Regions from separate parts of the Homo sapiens genome. Here regions 2, 3 and 4 are each reported to be linked to region 1. The links are microRNA targets in miRTarBase. Many come from high-throughput screens and were not tested one by one. Region 1 holds a microRNA gene; each other region holds the end of a gene's coding sequence.

Evidence for each region. The annotated mature microRNA hsa-miR-548w reads AAAAGUAACUGCGGUUUUUGCCU and lies in region 1 at 3,829-3,851, shown strand. An mRNA with a match to its seed (bases 2 to 7 or 8) in the 3' UTR can be bound and repressed. Matches are read on the target gene's strand: a 7mer-m8 pairs with bases 2 to 8, a 7mer-A1 pairs with bases 2 to 7 and ends in A, and an 8mer does both.
Region 2: miRTarBase lists NECTIN3 as a target of hsa-miR-548w. Seed matches in the 3' UTR shown: 7mer-m8 at 4,207-4,213 and 7mer-A1 at 4,084-4,090.
Region 3: the mRNA of CCNB1 is a reported target of hsa-miR-548w. Seed matches in the 3' UTR shown: 7mer-m8 at 4,565-4,571, 7mer-m8 at 4,537-4,543, 8mer at 4,362-4,369 and 7mer-m8 at 4,169-4,175.
Region 4: miRTarBase lists PPP1R18 as a target of hsa-miR-548w. Seed matches in the 3' UTR shown: 7mer-m8 at 1,782-1,788.

The regions. Positions count from the first base shown.
Region 1 is chr16:26,021,418-26,026,622 of GRCh38, forward strand. MIR548W (microRNA 548w) reads left to right here and starts at 3,820; the gene lies at 3,820-3,893. All of the region lies in intron 1 of HS3ST4 (heparan sulfate-glucosamine 3-sulfotransferase 4), which reads left to right.
Region 2 is chr3:111,133,545-111,138,544 of GRCh38, reverse strand. NECTIN3 (nectin cell adhesion molecule 3) reads right to left here. Exons shown (of 6, transcript NM_015480.3): 6 at 985-4,910. The coding sequence ends at 4,330. Among named protein-coding and RNA genes, the nearest start is that of NECTIN3, 64 kb to the right of the region's middle.
Region 3 is chr5:69,177,076-69,182,280 of GRCh38, reverse strand. It overlaps CCNB1 (cyclin B1), which reads right to left. Exons shown (of 9, transcript NM_031966.4): 8 at 4,932-5,042; 9 at 4,036-4,757. The coding sequence ends at 4,650. It overlaps LOC112267932 (a long non-coding RNA gene), which reads left to right. Exons shown (of 2, transcript XR_002956215.2): 2 at 279-827. Among named protein-coding and RNA genes, the nearest start is that of CENPH, 9.9 kb to the left of the region's middle.
Region 4 is chr6:30,673,198-30,678,402 of GRCh38, reverse strand. PPP1R18 (protein phosphatase 1 regulatory subunit 18) reads left to right here. Exons shown (of 3, transcript NM_133471.4): 3 at 1,115-2,014. The coding sequence ends at 1,134. Among named protein-coding and RNA genes, the nearest start is that of DHX16, 2.8 kb to the right of the region's middle. RefSeq lists a silencer at 3,305-3,444 and an enhancer at 5,086-5,205.

The sequences.
Region 1 (5,205 bases):
CTCAACCCACTTTACTCATTTGTGTTACCTGTCCGCCATTGTAGATATTTGAGGTAGCAATTACTGCATCCTATTATTTAGTTTCACTGAAAAAGATAGGATGTGGTCATTCATGAATACAACAGAGACCCACAGAGATGTGAGGCTGTGAGGATGCCCAGCAGCGTACGAGGCTCACACATCAGACATGCGGCCCCTTCCCATACAAACACAACCTCTAAGCACTTCCAATCTAAGTTCTATTATTATTATTATTATTATTTTTGAGACAGAGTCTAGTTCCGTCACCAGGCTGGAGTGCAGTGGTGCGATCTCAGCTCACTGCAACCTCCGCCTCCTGAGTTCAAGTGATTCTCCTGCCTCAGCCTCCTGAGTAGCTGGGATTGCAGGCACGTGCTGCCACAACCAGCTAATTTTTGTATTTTTAGTAGCGACGGGGTTTCACCATGTTGGCCAGGCTGGTATTGATCTCCTGACCTCGTGATCTGCCCACCTTGGCTTCCCAAAGTGCTGGAATTACAGGTGTGAGCCATCACACCCAGCCTACTATTATTATTTTTTGGGGGACAGGGTCTTGCTACATCACCCAGGCTGGAGTGCAGTGGCACTTTCTTAGTCCACTGCAGCCTTGAACTTCTGGGCTCCAGTGATCTTCCTGCCTCAGCCTCCCAAGTAGCTGGGACTACAGGCACATGTCACCATGCCTGGCTAGTTTTTTAAAATTATTTTTTTGTAGCTATGGGGTCTCACTGTGTTGCCCAGGCTGATCTCAAAATCCTGGCCTCAAGCTACCCTCCTGCCTCGTCCTCCCAAAGTGTTAGGATTCTATGCATTAGCCATGGCAACCAGCTAAGTTCTCTTCTCAGCAAAATTGTAAATACCTTTTGGGTGAATCTCAGTGGAAATTAAGGAAATCTAAATCTAAAATGTTAGTGGTGGGTGATTTGTATTGGTTCACTCTTCATCTGCAATTACATAGTGGACACTTACTGAAAATTGGGGGAGGGGACATATTCATAATCCCATGCTCTAAATCAAGGGCCCACAGTCTTTTTCTATAAGAGCAGATAGCAAACATTTTAAGCTTTGTGGTCCAGGAGGCCACCTGCTCTACCTTTGTAGCATGAAAGTAGTCCCAGACTATGTGGAAATGGAGGAGTGTGTCTGTATTTACAGGCTGTACAGACAGGCAGCAGGTCAAAATCTGGCTTGTGGTTGTTAGTCAATTCAAAGGTCCATTTTTTGCACACAGAATTTTCTTCCTTTTTTTTTTTTTTTAAGAGAGTCTTGCTATGTTGCCCAGGCTGGTCTCAAACTCCTGGGCTGCTCAAGTAATCCTCCTGCCTTGGCCTCCCGATGTGCTGAGATTATACCACACCTGGCCTACAGCGCTTTTTATTCTGTGAAAACACTGTTTTAACAACTTTAATAACTGTATTTTTAGTAGAGATGGGGTTTCATCATGTTGGCCAGGCTTAGCTGGGTGTGGTGGCGCATGCCTGTAATCCCAGCTACTGGGGAGGCTGAGGCAGGAGAATCTCTTGAATCCAGGAGGCGGAGGTTGCAATGAGCCGAGGTCATGCCATTGCACTCCAGGTGGGGAAACAAGAGTGAAACTCCATCTCAAAAAAAAGAAGAAGAAAAAAAACCAACTGTATTCACTTCAGTGTACATACCATTTGCTATTTCTTTTTTTTCCTTACCTCACTGGATTTCTTAAGCATTTTTTCATGTTTTTAAAGCATCGTAATGATTTTCATTGTTAATGGCTGCAGATTATGTCATCTTGATGCACCATTTGTACCACTTACTTTCCCATAAAACTATTTTTATCTGTAGGTATAAGTATGGTGACTATATATACATAAATATATGTTTTATATATATATATATATTTCTGCCTCAAACATTGGCACAACTGCTCTGATAAGAAGAAGGTTATTCAAATAGATAGAAGAATAGAATTAAAACAATTTTTTACTGTCTTAAATTTTTTTTTTAAGACAGGGTCTCACTCTGTCACCCAGGCTAGAGTGCAATGGCATGATCATAGCCCACTGCAACCTCAAACTCCTGAGCTCAAATGATCCTCCCACCTCTACCTCCCAAGTAGCTAGTACTAGAGGCACACACCACCAGGCCTGGCTAATTTTTTTATTTTATTTTTTTGTAGAGATGGGGCCTTGTTATGTTGGCCAGGCTGGTCTCAAACTCCCGGCCTCAAGTGTTCCTCTTGTCTCAGCCTCCTAATGTGCTGGGATTTATAGACATGAGCCATCCCACCTGGCCAATAATTTAATGTGCATAAAGGAGCTCTCCTACCTAGTCTTTATCTCTGATTTTCTGGTTGATATAGCAGAGTGGGGTAGAATGCACATGATGTTTGCTGCAAGACAGAGAGGAGTTTGCACCCTGGCTTGTCACTTATAAGTTGTGTGACCTCAAGAATTATTGAGATTGAGTCTCAGTGTCCTCATCAGAAAATGCTTCCTCTGTGAGGTCATTCTGGGTATTAAAGACAATGTCAATGGGTGCGGTGGCTCACGCCTGTAATCCCAGCACTTTGGGAGGCTGAGGCAGGTGTATCACTTGAGATCGGGAGTTTGAGACCAGCCTGGCCAACATGTTGAAACCCTATCTCTACTAAAAATACAAAAATTAGCTGATGTGGTGGCACATGCCTGTAATCCCAGCTACTTGGGAGGCTGAAGCAGGAGAATCGCTTGAACCCGGAGGTGGAGGTTGCAGTGAGCAGAGATCACACCACTGCACTCCAGCCCAGGCAACAGAGAGAGACTCCGTCTCAAAAGGAAAAAAAAAAAAAAAAGGCAATGTCTGTAAAGCACTTAGCTCAGTGCATGGTATCCAGGACATGTCAGTAAGTGAGATCTCTGCTTATCATAATAGTTCATTAGTTATGCTGCCTCATGGCCCAGTTTGATAATCCATCTTCCCTTTAGAACTGTGGCATAAGAGTCCATGTAGGAAGAGCACCCTCTGGCCACTTCATTTGCTTTTAAAACAAGTCTCAGGGCTGGGCGCAGTAGCTTACACCTGTAATCCCATCACTTTAGGAGGCTGAGGCAGGCAGATCCTCTGAGGTCAGGAGTTCAAGACCAGCCTGGCCAATATGGTGAAACCCTGTCTCTACTAAAAATACAAAAACTAGCAGGGCATGGTGGTAGGTGCCTGTAATCCCAGCTACTCGGGAGGCTGAGGCAGGAGAATCGCATGAACCCAGGAGGCAGAGACTGCAGTGAGCCAAGATCGTGCCACTGCCCTCCAGCCTGGGCGACAAAAGCAAGACTCCATCTCAAAAAAAAGTCTCATTTACGTAGTGCTTTATGGTTTATAGAACACTTTTAATGATCTTTATCCTTTGTGTAATTCCAGCCTTAGCCAAATTGACAGAGTGTAATCTAGCACAGGCTGTGGGTCAAGTCCAGCACCCCCATGCTAGGTGAGTAAACCAAAAGCTGGATTATCTAAGTGACCTGCTAACAGTTGCATGGCCAGCAAAGCACTTGTTTGTGGAATATGACTTATCTTTATTCTGTGGACCTCCCCTCTCCCATTTCATTCTTAGTAAAGTTACTAATGGGTAAAGTTCCAACTTTTTTTTTTTACTAAATTTCATCCTATCCCCTTAAGACCATGTTGGGTACATGTTGCTTTTATATAGATTTGCAGAGAATAAAAAATTACATTCCTAAGATACCTCTAATGTATGAGAAGCCATGCCACTTTTTAATAAAAGGACAAATTTTTCCAAGAGGAAAGGACTGTAACATCACCTGATGTTAAGATAGGGCCTAGTTAGGTTGGTGCAAAAGTAACTGCGGTTTTTGCCTTTCAACATAATGGCAAAACCCACAATTACTTTTGCACCAATCTAATAGGTTGATTGCCAAGTCTCCTTGCACTTTCCATCATCTATTACCGTTTCATTCGTACGCTGGGTCTCACATCTGATATCCAACATGCTCCTCAGAACACTCGTGCTCTTCTTTTGAAGGGATATTTTATGGGATTATTCAGATCTACAGGCCACAAAAGCCAGCAATCCCAGAAACTCCAGCCACTTTGTTTGAAACAGAGTTTAGGTCTCAGAAGAACTGGAACGCTGCCACGCAAAGGAGTTTTTGATTGGCTTGTGATGTGCCACTGGTTCTTTATTAGAGGGTACAGAGGGCTGATGAAGTCAACTATTTGGCAAATGCTAAAGGCTAGGGCAGGCTCCTATGCCTCTGCAACATTGATTGATGTCACATCATGGGATCGTAGGCAATAACAGGGAATTCAGTTTACCAAGGAACTTCTGGAAGGCTTAGCAACAACACCACCCTTTTTTTGTTCCTTTGTTTTTGCTTTTGTTTTGAGATGGAGTCTCATTCTGTCGCCAGGCTGGAGTGCAGTGGTGTGATCTTGGCTCACTGTAACCTCTGCCTCCCGGATTTAAACAATTCTCCTGCCTCAGCCTCCCAAGTAGCTGGGACTACATGCACGTGCCACCATGCCCAGCTAATTTTTGTATTTTTAGTAGAGACAGCGTTTTACCATGTTGGCCAGGCTGGTCTCGATCTCTTGATCTCGTGGTCTGCCTGCTTCAGCCTCCTAAGTAGCTGGGACTACAGGCGTGTGCCACCATGCCCAGCTAATTTTTGTATTTTTAGTACAGACAGGGTTTTACCATGTTGGCCAAGCTGGTCTTGATCTCTTGACCTCGTGATCTGCCTGCCTCAGCCTCCCAAAGTGCTGGGATTACAGGCGTGAGCCACCGCACCCGGCCGGAAACAACATCGTTTTTGAGAAACCTCCCTAGTTTCTCCTTAGGGTGATAACCAGGACCAATGCTTGGATTTCAAAAGCCAATATACTAGGGCTTAGTCAGAAAGGATGCATTTGGTCACAACAGAAAGCTCTGGTGCATCAGTTTACACCATAAGAATAGTTCGTTATTGCACCTAGGAGGAAGTTTGGAAGGTAGAGTGGCTCCAAGGTTGGGTAATTCAGTAGCTCAATGATGTCACCAATGATCTGGTTATTCCTATCTTTCTCCTTTGCTATTATCTTATGTCAGTTTTCCATGCAGGCTAGCTTTGCCCCATAGTCATGAAACAGATACAGCAATATTAGGCATCACCTCCAGAATCAACTCTCTCCAGAAGAACAAGAATATGGAAAAACAAGATATGACATCACTTT
Region 2 (5,000 bases), not on the chromosome of region 1:
AATTTTGGTTTCAAGCTCTTGATAAAAACCTAACACTACTCAAGTCAAAGTGTCAAGTCAAAGTATATATGTACTTTACAAAAAAGCAGATGACTGGACTATAACAGAAAAAAAACCCAGAAATATATAAACAGAAAAGCATTTTTAAAAACAGATGAAAGTTGGTTTACTGTGCAAACCCCTCAAAGACTGTTTCATGCATGAATTTTTTTTATTGGGATACCAAGAAGGGAACAAAACAACCCAGTCTAACTGTGTATTATCAAAGAAAAACCCTGGTCAAAAATAGTTTAAAAAATACAATTTAAAAAGCCAGAAATAGGAAACAAAGTGATGCATCACAAGGTGATTATAAACAATTCAAAGCAATGGCATTTCTAATCAAAGTAGCTCACAAAAAGTAGTAAGTAAAAAACACTAAATGTCAACTTAAGAAATACCTTATGAAATGTGTTAATTCCAAATTGAAAGCCAATATATAAAATTTGGCTTATGCCAAAGTAATAGCAAAAACATATAAAATGGGTTTTAACAGCTAGGGCTACAGAGATAAGATAATTTATAACTATGGAGAATGTTAATTCATGATTGGGAATTAAATGGTTAATCAAAAATAAAATATTATAGTTAATGCATGCTGGGCTTAATACCTAGGTGATGGGTTTGTGTAGTAAACCACCATGGCACATTACCTGTGTAACAAACCTGTACATGCACCCCTGAACTTAAAAGTGGAAGAAAAAAACCCAACCACCAAAAAAAAAAAAAAAAAAAAGGAAAAAATTTTACAGTGGCCAACATGCCAACTATCCTCAATCTGATATTACAGTCTTGTTTTAGGAAAACAGGTTTCTGATTCCCACAAATCATTAATTACATTTTGATAATTAAAATAAACTAGGTTACACACGCACATACACACACACTTTAGTAAATACGAGGACAAAGATGGTAACATAGAGCAATGAACTTATTACAGAAATATGCCTCTAAAGAACTTTTTTAACTTTTATTTAAAGATTTCATGCATGGCTATTGGGGCTAACACCTAATACACAGGTTGGTTAAAAAAGAAAAAACAAAACAAAACAAAACAAAACAAAAAACACCAAACACAACAAAACCAAAACTTAGCGCGGGTACAAACTAAAACCCAAACACAAACACAATATACAAAAAATTTGAGAAAGGAGCTGTTTATGAAGGATGCATTTTCTAATTAACAAGTAAACAGGAAAGACAATTCAATCTACAATCTACTCTCCTATTAGAATTAAAAATTCAAAATGGGTACCATTTATTCCTTTCTTATATTTTACATTGATTACTTTCATACATAAACTTCTTACTTGTTCATATACTGTGTTTTAGCAGTATTTATCAAAAACTCAAATCAGATGTTTTCACATATAAAATGACTACATTTCTCTCAATTTCTGTACTTATACACTGTACTCCTACAGCTCCTTAATGCAAAATATTTAGCCGTGGGTTATCTTATAAAACTTTCCTGTATATGGCTATTAGAAGCAACACTTACTACTGAAAACCTTAATAGTTTCCTCAATATTAGAGTTAGCAAATAGAACCCTACTAGGCACGTGGTAAAATACTAAATCTTTCAACTCTAAAGCACTTCTCAAATATCACTTTTAAAGTTAACCCCGAGCCTACTTTAGTTTCAATGTATTTTAATAAAAAATGGCAGAAAAATAAGAGTTGCATTCATCTTCATTATATCATTGAAATATTTTAACCAGTATGAAAGAAAACTCTCAAGTGAATTTACAAAATGCTAAAACAGTTCAAACCATATGAAAGAAATAAATATAAATATGGCCAAAAATAGTACAAATATTCATTTTTTTTCACGATAGTAGAATTTTCATATATACCTGTCAAGTAGTTATGAATATCACTGGTATTCAAAAACTAATTTAACAATGTCTTTATTTAATGACTATTCATGTTTTCAAACAAGTCTCTATGTACAGTAAATATACATAAAGTTCTAATAAACAACAGTGCAATGCTTCCCAAAGTCTTAAGCACTAGTATCAGATTCTTACAACACAGAAACCTTTTAGTTTGCCAAATGATTGGATTAAGGATACAGAATATGTCAAATACTCACTTGTGGCTTTCCAGGTCACCCTCTCCCGCCAAACAAACACAAAAGAAACAAACAAAAAAACCTAATCGCACAAATAACCACAATGTAAAAGGAAGTTCATAATCAGTATTTATATTTTTGAAATATATTTCTTAAAATACACTGCTAATTTCCTTCAGATTATACTCCAGTTGAGATTTATATAGAATCCTAAATGTGATTATTCTGTTCAGATCCATACAGTATTTCAAACCATTATTTTAAAAGATGAAATTTTGATTTTAAAAAAAGCCATAGTTTTACATCTTTCATGGGGAGAAATTTTAGACCCATCTTTCTTCTGGCCACCTCATCGTTTAAATTAAAAATAAAGTCACATCAATCACAGTGTTTTATCAAAAAGTTTTCTTCCAAAAACTTGCACTAAAAAGTTGTAATATTTGTATATAAGTGATTAACCATATTAAAACCCAGACATTTGTAAGAAGATATAAGTGAACTTTATTTATCTGTATCCTTAACCTGATACTACAGCCTTATAATAAGTATTACTTTTGGGAAGAGAAATAAAAGAGGTTTCTAATTTCCACAAAATAGTGCTAGTTAAAATGAAGAAAACTAGTTTATAATCCTTCAGAATAAAGCTTTCACTATTTGCAAGATACCATGAACATGTTAGAATTTTGCCCCCTAAATGTTTTAGATTTGATGAATATTGAGAAAGGGCTGGTTGGGAGGGTTTAAAAAGTACCTACTACTTTGCCTTTTTATTAACAAAATAATATATTTAATTTATGATTCTCCTACTAACTTCCACTTCATTTCACTGGCAAAATGGTCACTTTTTCAAATGACTTAGCAATAGAAAAACTATCCTTTCAGCTTCAAAATAGTTGTCACAATAATTTTGTAAGCCTCCACTGTAGAAGCAATTTAATTACCTCACAAACAAAAAGCACATTTGAAGTTTAGGTAACATTTCTTTCTCAAAAGATAAATGATTCAGAAGGAATATATGTAATTATGTAAAAAAACAAAAACAAAAAACCTCATGTTTCCAGTTTTAATCGTAAAAACAGAAATCTTAAAACACATACATACACTTAGGAGGAAAAAGGAGATGAATGCCAATGTCCATTAGCAAGTGTTACCGACTAATTCTATAATCTAGTTTTTTCTAGTTATATCCAAAGTTCCAAGTTTACTCTAAAATTTTCTTTCTGTACATTTACCCATTTGAACAACATCAACATTAAATAACTAAAACAAGATGGTCCATAAAATTCTTTCTATAGATTGTTGGCTGAAAGTCTCATTTCTAAAACTAGTACTTCAGTATTCCGAAATGCTCTCTCTGCGTCTTTTCATTTCTATTAGTATGTTTAGGACATAAAGCATTAAAATAAGGCTACTGCTAATGTACCAAAATCCATGTTCCAGAAAGGAAAAAAAAAAACTAATAATTATCATGTTTGAAAGGTATGTATTTTATTACTCTTGCAGGTATTTTGGACAAAAATATTGACCAGCTAATTATGCTCTTCCACACATCATGTTCACTGAGTTTACTACCACAGTTTTAGTGCAACAAAATATCTTTGAAAAGCCACTCTACAGTAATTATGGCAAGGCTCATTAATATGCAGAGGTAAAGATTTCATTTGTATAGAAACTTAGAAAATAATGTTTGAAAAGGAAAGCCATTCCATCAGGCTAAATATTTTTTGTATATTAAAAAATATATATAAATATTTCTTGAATTAGTTTTATAGTCAATTTTGATGCAGTGTCATTGAGTGGTGATAAATTTTGAGAGGTATATGTTAAACAAACATCATACTTGAGATTATAGTCTTAGGTAAACATTTAATACACAATGTCAAGGTAGTTCCCTTTTTAAAAAATTTTTGTACCAAGTAAGTCATACATTTAATGTTGACATTTCTTCTTACCTGTGTGCCTCACACCAATAAAGTACTCTGCATTAAAATTTAAATCTTGAGACAGTAGTACAGCATTGAAAAAAAATTGTAAAGCAGCTTAGATACACTGAACTCAGATTTTACATTTTCATTTGTCAGATTAGAATATAAAAAGTAAGCTTGAAAATCAACTTGAAAAAGCTTATTCTTCCTCAAGAAAAAGTATGAACAATCTGAAAATGATCAACTAGTGTGAATGAACATTGTACATAGTTAAGTCACATTCAGTGGTTGCTAAACATACCACTCCCTCCTGGAAATTACGGAACCATCTACATGTGAAACTAAGTCATCTTCGTTTTCATCATAATGTTCATCACTGACAAACTTCATTCCCATTTTTAGATCTTCATAATAATCCATTGGTCTTTCAAACCTATTGAGATTTTCTACATTGTTCCACTGAGTTTTTTCAGGCTCTTCTAAATAGTCTTTACGTATTAGATTGTTCACTGGATTTTTGTTTTCTTTTTTTACACTGTCTGGGTAAGAATCAAGCTCATCTTGTTGAAGAACATCTATTTGTGATTCTTTTTGCATATCTGATGGTGGAATGTAGTTCTTGGCAAAGTAGTCTCCACGAAACGTCCGTCTTCTCCTATAGCAGAATATTCCAGCCAAAACACTTACAAGTACTATGAAGAGAGCCCCACCCACTACACTAGCAATGATCGTGGCAATTGTGTCATCCTTAATTGTTGCCAAAGTTGACAATGGGAAGGGCAATTTTTTAGGTTCTGTTGCTAGATCCTCGATGTCAGCAGTTGAGGGATGCCACTGAATTGTAGGCTGAAGGGTGGTAGTAGTAGGAGGATCTAATGGAAACAGTAAAGATAGAGAAGACACAGAAAGGCAAAGAATGTCAATGCAGGCTGATTCAGCAGCAAGTTGACAAGACAGCACAG
Region 3 (5,205 bases), not on the chromosome of region 1:
AACACACCAATGAGCACTCTGTGTCTAACTAAAGATTTGTAAATGCACCAATCAGCACTGTGTAAAAACGCACCAATCAGTGCTCTGTGTCTAGCTAAAGGTTTGTAAACGCACCAATCAGCACTCTGTAAAAATGGACCAATCAGCACTCTGTAAAATGGACCAATCAGCAGGAAGTGGGCAGGGCGAAATAAGGGAATAAAAGCTGGCCACCTGTGCCAGCAGGGGCATGGGTTCTATTCTATGCTGTGGAATGTTTGTTGTTTTGCTCTTTGCAGTAAATCCTGCTGCTGCTCACTCTTTGGGTCTGCACTGCCTTTATGAGCTGTAACACTCACCGGAAGGTCTGCAGCTTCACTCCTGAAGCCAGCGAGACCATGAACCCACCGGGAGAAGAGAACAGTGCTGTCTTTATGAGCTGTAACACTGTAACACTCACTGCAAAGGTCGAAGGTCTGCGGCTTCACTCCTGAAGTCAGCGAGAACATGAACCCACCAGAAGGAAGAAACTCCGGATACACCTGAACATCAGAAAGAATAAACTCCGGACACACCATCTTTAAAAACTGTAACACTCACCGCGAGGGTCCGTGGCTTCATTCTTGAAGTCAACGAGACCAAGAACCCACCGGAAGGAACAAATTTCGGACACAATAGGAAATCTCTAAGGTGGAATACTATATCAAAAGAGAGAAGCCAAAATGATATCATACGCTGAAAATGTTAATGGAATTCCACAACCTTGCCTATTAAAAACTCCACAGTTTGAGCACAGCATGGAATCAAAATTTAAAAAATAAACATGACATAGTATTTTTATCATTTGATATTTTTTGCTATTTAATTGGTCTTTGTAGTTTCTATTACTGTGTGACATCAATTCAGTGACAGGAAACCATTTATTATCACTGATTATTTCAGAGATTCTAATATTATAAAATAGGTGAAACTTTTGGATTTAAGGACTAGAAAATTCTCCAATAAAAAACACTCAAGAAGGGCTGGGCACAGTGGCTCACACCTGTAATCTCAGCATTTTGGGGGGCCACTGCCGGGTGGATCATGAGGTCAGGAGATCGAGATCATCGTGGCTGGCACAGTGAAACCCTGTCTCTACTAAAAATACAAAAAATTAGCTGGGCGTGGTGGCGGGCACCCCTAGTCCCAGCTACTCGGGAGGCTGAGGCACGTGAATGGTGTGAACCCGGCGGGGCAGAGTTTGCAGTGAGCCGAGATCGCGCCACTGCACTCCAGCTTGGGCAACAGAGCTAGACTCTGTCTCAACAACAACAACAACAAAAATATTAAAGAAGGAAAACTGATGTCAACTGGATAAGATATTAAAAATAGAAGTGGGCGTCAGGCGCATTGGCTCACGTCTATAATCCCGGTGCTTTAAGAGGCTGAAGTGGGAGAGTCACTTGAGGCCAGGAGTTTGAGACCAGCTTGGACAACATAGTGAGACCCCATCTCTACACAGAAAAGGAAAAAATAAAATATTAGCCAAATGTGGTTGGCCCACCTGTAGTGATAGCTACCTAGAAAGCTGAGGTGGTAGGATAGCTGGAGTTCAGGGCAGCAGTGCACTATGATTGCACCACTGTACTCCATCCTGGGCGACAGAGAGACATTGTCTCTATTTAAAACTAAACAGGAGTGGGATACACTACTAGGGAGATGAAGAAAAAAATTTAAAGAAACAGAAGTGGGAAATATATCCCATTCACAATAACGACAAAAGGCAAAAGGCATAAATCCAACCATAAATTTAAGAAAGTTGCAGAATTATACAATTAAATTCCAACGTTATTGAAGGGCATGCAACAAGGATTGATAGTTTCTAGATGGTAAGATAATATGTCAGTCTATCCCAAGCTAGTACATAATGTATAGTCAAAATCTCAAAGGAGGGTCGGGCGCGGTGGGTCACGCCTGTAATCCCAGCACTTTGGGAGGCTGAGGCGGGCGGATCACCTGAGGTCAAAAGTTCGAGACCAAACTGCCAACGTGGTGAAACCCTGTCTCTACTAAAAATACAAAAAAATTAGCCAGGCATGGTGGCCCGTGCCTGTAGTCCCAGCTACTCCGGAGGCTGAGGCAGGAGAATCACTTGAACCAGGGAGGCAGAGGTTGCAGTGAGCTGAGATCGCACCACTGCACTCCAGCCTGGGCAACAGAACGAGACTCCCTCTCAAAAAACAAAACAACAACAACAAAACTCAAAGGAACTTTTTGGTAACTGTACACAATTTTAAAGTTTTTATAGAAAAGTGTTCAGTAGTACTCCCATATATTTGGTAAGCCTCATCTTAACTGATTAACTGGTAAAAACTATTGTATTATCACAGGAAAAAACAAGATCAAGGAAGAATAGATGGGCATTGAAGATATTTCAAGTTGGACAAGCAGGGTTTCAGTCATGGCACTGGCATAAACGGGTATCCATCTGTAAGAATTCTACTTTATACCACATATAAAAATCGCCTACTGAGGGCCGGGCGCGGTGGCTCACGCCTGTAATCCCAGCACTTTGGGAGGCCGAGGTGGGCGATCACGAAGTCTGGAGATTGAGACCATCCTGGCTAACACGGTGAAATCCCGTTTCTACTAAAAATACAAAAAATAAGCCGGGTATGCGCCTGTAATCCCAACTCCTTGGGAGGCTGAGGCAGGAGAATCACTTGAACCTGGGAGGCGGAGGTTGCAAGTGAGCTGAGATCATGCCACTGCACTTCAGCCTGGGTGACAGTGTGAGCCTCCGTCTCAAAAAAAAAAAAAAAAAAGTTAACGTGGCAAATATCTTTTGCCAGTTGGAGTCATAGAAATAAAAGACTGATTACCTTCAGTTTTAATAATGCAGAGAAAACTGGCACCTTTTGACTCCGTCTCAAAAAAAAAAAGTTAAAATGGCAAATATTTTTTGCCAGTTGGAGTCATAGAAATAAAAGACTGATTACCTTCAGTTTTAATAATGCAGAGAAAACAGGCACTTTTGTATGTCATCTGGTTCTATCAAAATTTAAAATGCATGTTTGCTTTAGGGAACCTAGAATACACACAAAAAAGCATGGTATAAAACAGTAAATTGGCCAGGTGTGGTGGCTCACGCCTTTAATCCCAGCACTTTGGGAAGCTGAGGCGGGTGGATCACCTGAGGTCGGGTGTTCAAGACCAGCCTGACCAACATGGTGAAACTGCGTCTCTACTAAAAATACAAAATTAGCCGGGCGCGGTGGCGCATGCCTGTAATCTCAGCTACTCAGGAGGCTGAGGCAGGAGAATCGCTTGAACCTGGGAGGCAGAGGTTGCAGTGAGCTGAGATAGCGCCATTGCACTCCAGCCTGACGACAGAGTGAGACTCTTGTCTCAAAAAAAAAAAAAAAAACAAAAACAAAAGCCCCAAAAAACAGTATTATCAACAAAATTGTAGGGGCAAAAAGAAAAAGCAATCTGAACGAACAGGGGAAATGGTTGAATCCATTAGTCATGTGTTGCTTAAGGACTGGGATATGGTTTGAGAAACCTATCATTAGGTGATTTTATTGTTCAAACATCAGTGTACTCACACAAATCTAGATGGCATACCCTCCTGCACTCCTAGGCTATATAGTATAGGTTATAGCTCCTAGGCTACAAATCTATACACCATATTATTGAATACTGCAGGCAATTATAACACAAGTCAGTATTTGTGTATCTAGGCACAAGAAGAGGTACAGTAAAAATATGGCATCATAATCTTATGGGACCACCATTGTATCTGTAATCTATCTTTGACCAAAATGTTCATGGGGCACATGACTATTTATCTGTACCATGTAATATAATGCACAAATACAGGTAGGCTTATGTATGTTGAAAGTAATTGTTATGTATATAGAATGAACCACATTTTTAAAAAACCCATAAAAATTCATATGCACATCTGTATTTATACAAGGCATGAAGGATAAATCCATAATTGATGTCCTTCAGGTGGGTGGGATTTAGAAAGAGCCTAAGGAAGCAGTAAACTAACTTTTTAAAAAAGATACCTTTTGTATTTGAGTATTGTTTTATTAACCAAAACACAAAACCAAAATGAAAACTGGCTTAGAATATAAAATTCTCATTTTTCAAAGTGAAAGTTTGAAGATACTAGCTAAAGTTGATAACTTAAATAGTGGTAAAAGTAAATAACTTAGAATTATGGCAGCAATCACAAGAAGAAACAGAAAACAGGGGGACTAGGGATTCGGTGGTAGACTTTTACTTTAAAATAGAGCTATGCAGCAGATTCTCCATGACTTGGCTTACATGCAGTATGTCCTATGGAAGTAAAATTTTCAAATACCTCCATCACCTTCAGTAACTCATATTAATAAAGTAAAAGCCAGGTATATAAAACAAGAACCCAGTATATAAACATATACATCAATTGGATCCCCAGGTAAACCAAAAGGAGTTTTTAAAAATATCCCCACCATACCTTTTAAGACAACTTTTCCGCTACCCTACAGTAGGAAGTAACCACATTCAAATTAGTTAAGCTATAAAAAAGTAAAAGGGGCCACAAGCTTTATTAAAAGTAAATGCAACAGTAATATGTACAGATGGCACATGGTGCCAATTTTATTTGTAAATATAGTACTCCAACTCAAGTTTACAAGTTACACCTTTGCCACAGCCTTGGCTAAATCTTGAACTAGTGCAGAATTCAGCTGTGGTAGAGTGCTGATCTTAGCATGCTTCGATGTGGCATACTTGTTCTTGACAGTCTGGAAGACAAAAAGATAGCAATTAAAGAGGCAAAAGAAAAAAAATCACAAGATGCAATGATACAGGTATTCATTTAAAACATTAACTCATTAAAAATAAACCAGGCATTTGCAGGCATTAAGTTTGAATTATTACACTTTTCAGCATCTTACAATGCCACTATATTGACTCACCATGTGCTTTGTAAGTCCTTGATTTACCATGACTACATTCTTAGCCAGGTGCTGCATAACTGGAAGAAGAGATTCTTCAGTATATGACAGGTAATGTTGTAGAGTTGGTGTCTAAGGCAACAAGTTAATGTTAAAAATGCTCAAATCAATAATGATTTTCATAAAGTTTCTAGATGTTAGATGTTATTCAGGAGTGGAAAAGAGATGGGTACTGTATAATTAATATAACTGAAATTTAAGACAAAGCTAAAGACTCCTTTCCTAGGTGCTCTCA
Region 4 (5,205 bases), not on the chromosome of region 1:
CTCCGTCTCAAAAAAAAAAAAAAAAATTAGCCAGGTGTGGCAGTGCGCAGCTGTGGTTCCAGGTACTTGGAAGGCTGAGGTGGGAGCATCGTTTGACCTCAGGAGTTGGAGGCTGCAGTGAACCAATATTGCACCACCCACTGCACTCCAGCCTGGGCAACAAAGGAAGACCTGTCTCAAAAGAAACAAACAGGCCAGGCACGGTGGCTCACGCCTGTAATCTCAGCACTTTGGGAGGCCGAGGCAGGTGGATCACTCAAGGTCAGAAGTTCAAGACCAGCCTGGCCAACATAGTGAAAACCCATCTCTACTAAAAATACAAAAATTAGCTAGGCATGGAGGTGGACACCTGTAATCCCTGCTACTCGGGAGTCTGAGGCAGGAGAATCACTTGAACCCGGGAAGCAGAGGTTGCAGTGAGCCGAGATGACGCCACTACACTCCAGCCTGGGTGACAGAGTGAAATTCTGTCTCAAAAAAACAGAAACCAAAAACTACCTCCTAGACTTGTAGAAAATATTAAGTAATTTTATTTATTTATTTATTTATTTATTTTGAGACAGCGTCTCCCTCTGTCGCCTGGACTGGAATGCAGTGGCACAACCTTGGCTCACTGCAACCTCTGCCTCCCAAATTCAAGCGATTCTTGTGCCTCAGCCTCTCTAGTAGCTGGGATTACAGATGTGTACCATCACACCTGGCTAGTTTTTATATTTTTAGTAGAGACAGGGTTTCCCCATGTTGGTCAGGCTGGTCTTGAACTCCTGACCTCAAGTGATCCTCCTGCCTCAGCCTCCCAAATTGCTTGGATTACAGGTGCTCCAGGCCAAGATTAAGTAATTTTTTGTGAAGCACCAAGAGCCACAGCTGGATATCATATTACTTAATCTCTCCTGGAGTTATGGTGAGATTAAACAGTTATAAGGATGCCTGGCACAGAGTCCGAGCTAAATGAGTGATGGATGTGGTTACTGGTGGTAACATGCTTTAGATATGGAAGATATTATAGGACTTCCTGCATGCCAACTGCCCTTCAATTTGTGTGGGGGGGAAGGGTGGGCAGAAGGCAGAGGCTCTCACTCATTCTCTAACATTATTGCCCCCTCTCCCACAGATGAGTCCTGCCGGCGGTGACCATCTTCCAACATAGGGATATACCTCCCTCCTTCTTATAACTGAAGATCCTGGAGCCCGGAAGATTCAGGGCAGACAGACCCTGATAATGAGCCTGGCAGGGAAGGGCAACCAACATCTTGTAACTTGCTTTCCCCACCCTGTTTCTGGGGGCAGAGCCAATTGCCCAATTTCTACCCTAATCCAAAGTCCCTGGTGTGGGTGGGGTTAAACGTGCTGGTGCATCCTAGGTCATCCAAGAGTGAGCGCCAAGTCCTGAGAAGGGGCACAGAACTCCCTGGAGGGTGGAGATGGAGCACCTGCCCCCCATGGCAGGGTACACTCTCCCCACAGCCTTCCTCCCCACCATCCCGTGGGGACTCTCGGGATTTAAGCACTCGTCTCTCTGGGAGGCCCAGACCCCACTCCATTTATAGGCACATCTCCTTCATTTCCTAGGTCACTGCCCCTTTGTTTACAGCTCCTGCCTCCTCCCTTGACCACAGCCTGGTTTACAAATTCCATCAGCTCCCAGCCCCACCTGCCAAAGTCCCAGGTTTACAAGCCACGCTTACTTGCTGTGTCTGCGTGGAATTCTCTCCTCTGTCCCCTCCAGTCTCCTCATTGGAGTGACCTGAAGGTGTGGCTTCCTCCACTTTTTCTCAGTATTACTTTGCCTTAGTTTTCCCCAAGAGGGAAGGCTGGAACTCTTAACTCTGTACCCCTTGATAGTTATTTAATTCTGTTTCTCCTAGTGGTTCACAATTGAACTGAATTGAGATGGTGTCGGGTGGCTAAGGAGACACCTCACCTCTCCTTCCCCATTGTGCCGCCTTTATCAATTGCCTGTTTTGTTTTGTTTGTTTTTTAACTTTCCATAATAAAATGGAGTTCTCTTCAACTCGTCTGCTTCTCCTTCTTTGGGAAAAAAAAAGGGTATGTGAGGGGAGGCTCTGGTGGCTGGGGGAGAGGAAAATGATGGGGGATGAACCAGGAACTCGGCACTGACATGTCAAAAGGGGTCTGGGAAGCTGCACGTGGGTTTCACGCAGGACAAGCAGGTGACATGAGAAAGGGCAGTTGAAGTGTCCACTAGACTGGAAGTGCCATGAGGGCTGACTACATCAGCTGGATTCACTGCAATATCCTGTACCTGTCAACTAGTAGACACGGAATTATTTCTAGAATGAATGACAACAAATGAATGAATAGAAGAAAAGGGTTAAAATATTACAGAGGACACTTTGAGTTGAAGGGTTCTAGTATTCAGAAGCCTGCTGCCATGAAGGCAGCTAGGTAGTGTATGACACAACCCATGTGGCTAATCCAGGGATACTTACTTAAAGAGCTGGGGCTACGAATACTAAATCTGAAATTGCTGCAAAATGAAGTAAGTATGTACAAGAGTCAGTTTCCTGGAAAAGGTTCCCCTCTGATAGACAATGGATTTTATATCGTTAAAGGCCTAAAGGCCGGGCACGGTGGCTCACGCCTGTGATCCCAGCACTTTGGGAGGCCGAGGCAGGCGGATCATAAGGTCAGGAGATTGAGACCATCCTGGCTAACACGGTGAAACCCCGTCTCTACTAAAAATACAAAAAATTAGCGGGGCATAGTGGTGGGCACCTGTAGTCCCAGCTACTCGGGAGGCTGAGGCAGGAGAATGGCATGAACCCGGGAGGTGGAGCTTGCAGTGAGCTGAGATTGCGCCATTACACTCCAGCCTGGGCAGCAGAGTGAGACTCCATCTCAAAAAAAAAAAAAAAGGTTTAAAAACCATCTTGATAGTGCATGGCTTTGGTGCCCATGTAGTTGATATTTGGAATTTTCCCATTTCAAAGAATATCTTATACAAATGTGGAACATCAATATTTTACTCATCAGGAAAATTTGTTTGTTTGTTGTTAGCTCTCCAGGCTAACAAAGATATGGTTGAATAGTTATAGTCCTTCTACCACTACAAGTTGCTCCTCTCAGACTGGTCAGAGGAGGCCCCACACCTTTACTATAAAACAAAATATATGAGACAAATTGAACTTAAGCATACGCCAAAGGTTTTCAATTTACTAGCAAGAGAACAAGCCAGGTGTCAAAAGACTCAGCCAGTTCAGAGAAGGTCTGGGTAGGGAAGGAAACAGAATGATTATATTAGTAGCCTGTTAGGTAAAGGTCTTAAAAAGTTTCCAGTTGTGACCCAGGAAAACAGAGTTAGGAAGCTCCGAGGTGCCAGGGGTGCTCACAGTCCATCTCAGAAACAGAAAACAATGCATTCAAGAGGTCAGGCCAGGTGTGGTGGCTCATGCCTGTAATCCTAACACTTTGGGATGCCAAGGCGGGTGGACTGCCTCATCTGAGGAGTTTGAGACCAGCCTGGGCAACATGATGAAACCCCGTCTCTACTAAAATACAAAAAATTAGCTGGACGTGGTGGCACGCACCTGTAGTCCCGCCTACTCAGGAGGCTGAGGCAGGAGAATTGCTTGAACCCAGGAGGTGGAGGCTGCAGTGAGCCAAGATCACGCCACTGCATTCCAGCCTGGGCGACAGAGTGAGACTCCGAGACTCCCTTTCCAAAAAAAAAAAAAAAAAAGTCAGTGATGTAGATCCACTTGTGGCTATTAATAAGAACAATGTTTCATTTCCTAACAGTAGTGCCTGGTAACTGCAATTAATCACAAAAGTATGATGCAGGATCAAACAAATCAGACAGCAGAGCATCGAGTAACAAATTCAGCTTTTTGTTTTGTTTGTTTTTTTTTTTTGAGCATAGTCTTGGTCTGTTGCCTAGGTTGGAGTGCCTGACCTCGGCTCACTGCAACCTCTGGCTCCTGGGCTCAAGAGATTCTCCTGTCTCAGGCCCAGTGCGGTGGCTCACGCCTGTAATCCCAGCACTTTGGGAGGCCGAGACGGGCGGATCATGAGGTCAGGAGTTTGAGACCAGCCTGACCAACATGGTAAAACCCCATCTGTATTAAAAATACAAAAACTAGCTGGGCGTGATGGCATGTGCTTGTCACACTTGTAATTCCAGCTACTCAGGAGGCTGAGGCAGGAGAATCACTTGAACCTGGGAGGCGGAAGTTGCAGTGAGCCGAGATCGTGCCATTGCACTCCAGTCTGGGCAACAGAGCGAGACTCTGTCTCCAAAAAAAAAAAAAAAAATTCTCCTGTCTCAGTCTCCAGAGTAGCTGGGACTACAGGTGCACACCTCCACACCTGGCTAATTTTTTGTAGAGATGGTGGGGTCTCACCCTGTTGCCCAGGCTGGTCTCAAACCCCTGGTCTCAAGATATCCTCCTGCCTCAGCCTCCCAAAGTGCTGGGATTACAGCAAGAGCCACTGCACCTGGCCTTGCTTACTTTTAAATAAGCAGCCACCAGTGATTTTCTCAAGCTGTTAAGCAAAAATGCAGAACACAGTTTGCCTGTTCCTTAGTTTGGAGATTTTGTCTTTAACAACTTTCCCCAGTTCCCCAGTTTCTTCCTGCCTAGAGGTCTTCCCTTATACCTGACCTGTCTTCACTCCTGCTGCAGGCAAACCAGTCCTAGCAACGGTCACTTTTTTGTTTGTTTGAGACAGAGACTTCCTCTGTTGCTCAGGCTGGAGTGCCGTGGTGGGATCTCGGCTCACTGCAAACTCTGCTTCCCATGTTCAAATGATTCTCCTGCCTCAGCCTCCCGAGTGGCTGGGACTACAGGCGCACACCACCACGCCAGGCTAATTTTTATATTTTTAGTAGAGACAGGGTTTCGCCATCTTGGCCAGGCTGGTCTCGAACTCCTGACCTCAGATAATCCGCCCGCCTTGGCCTCCCAAAGTGCTGGGATTACAGGCATGAGCCACCGCGCCCGGCCAACAATGCTAATATGTTTTATGAGCATGGACCCGATCTTCCAATCTGAAATAGAATTTCATTCCTCCCTTACTTTGTATAGTTTTTGGCTCTATAAAATTTCCATACTTTCTTTATTATGTATCCTGTCCCTCCCCCACCGCAAAATGTAAATTTGGTAAGGAACTTTTGATTTGTCCTCTGCTATATCCCAGGGACGGAAAGCAATGAGCACACATTAGGCATCCATTAAATTAATT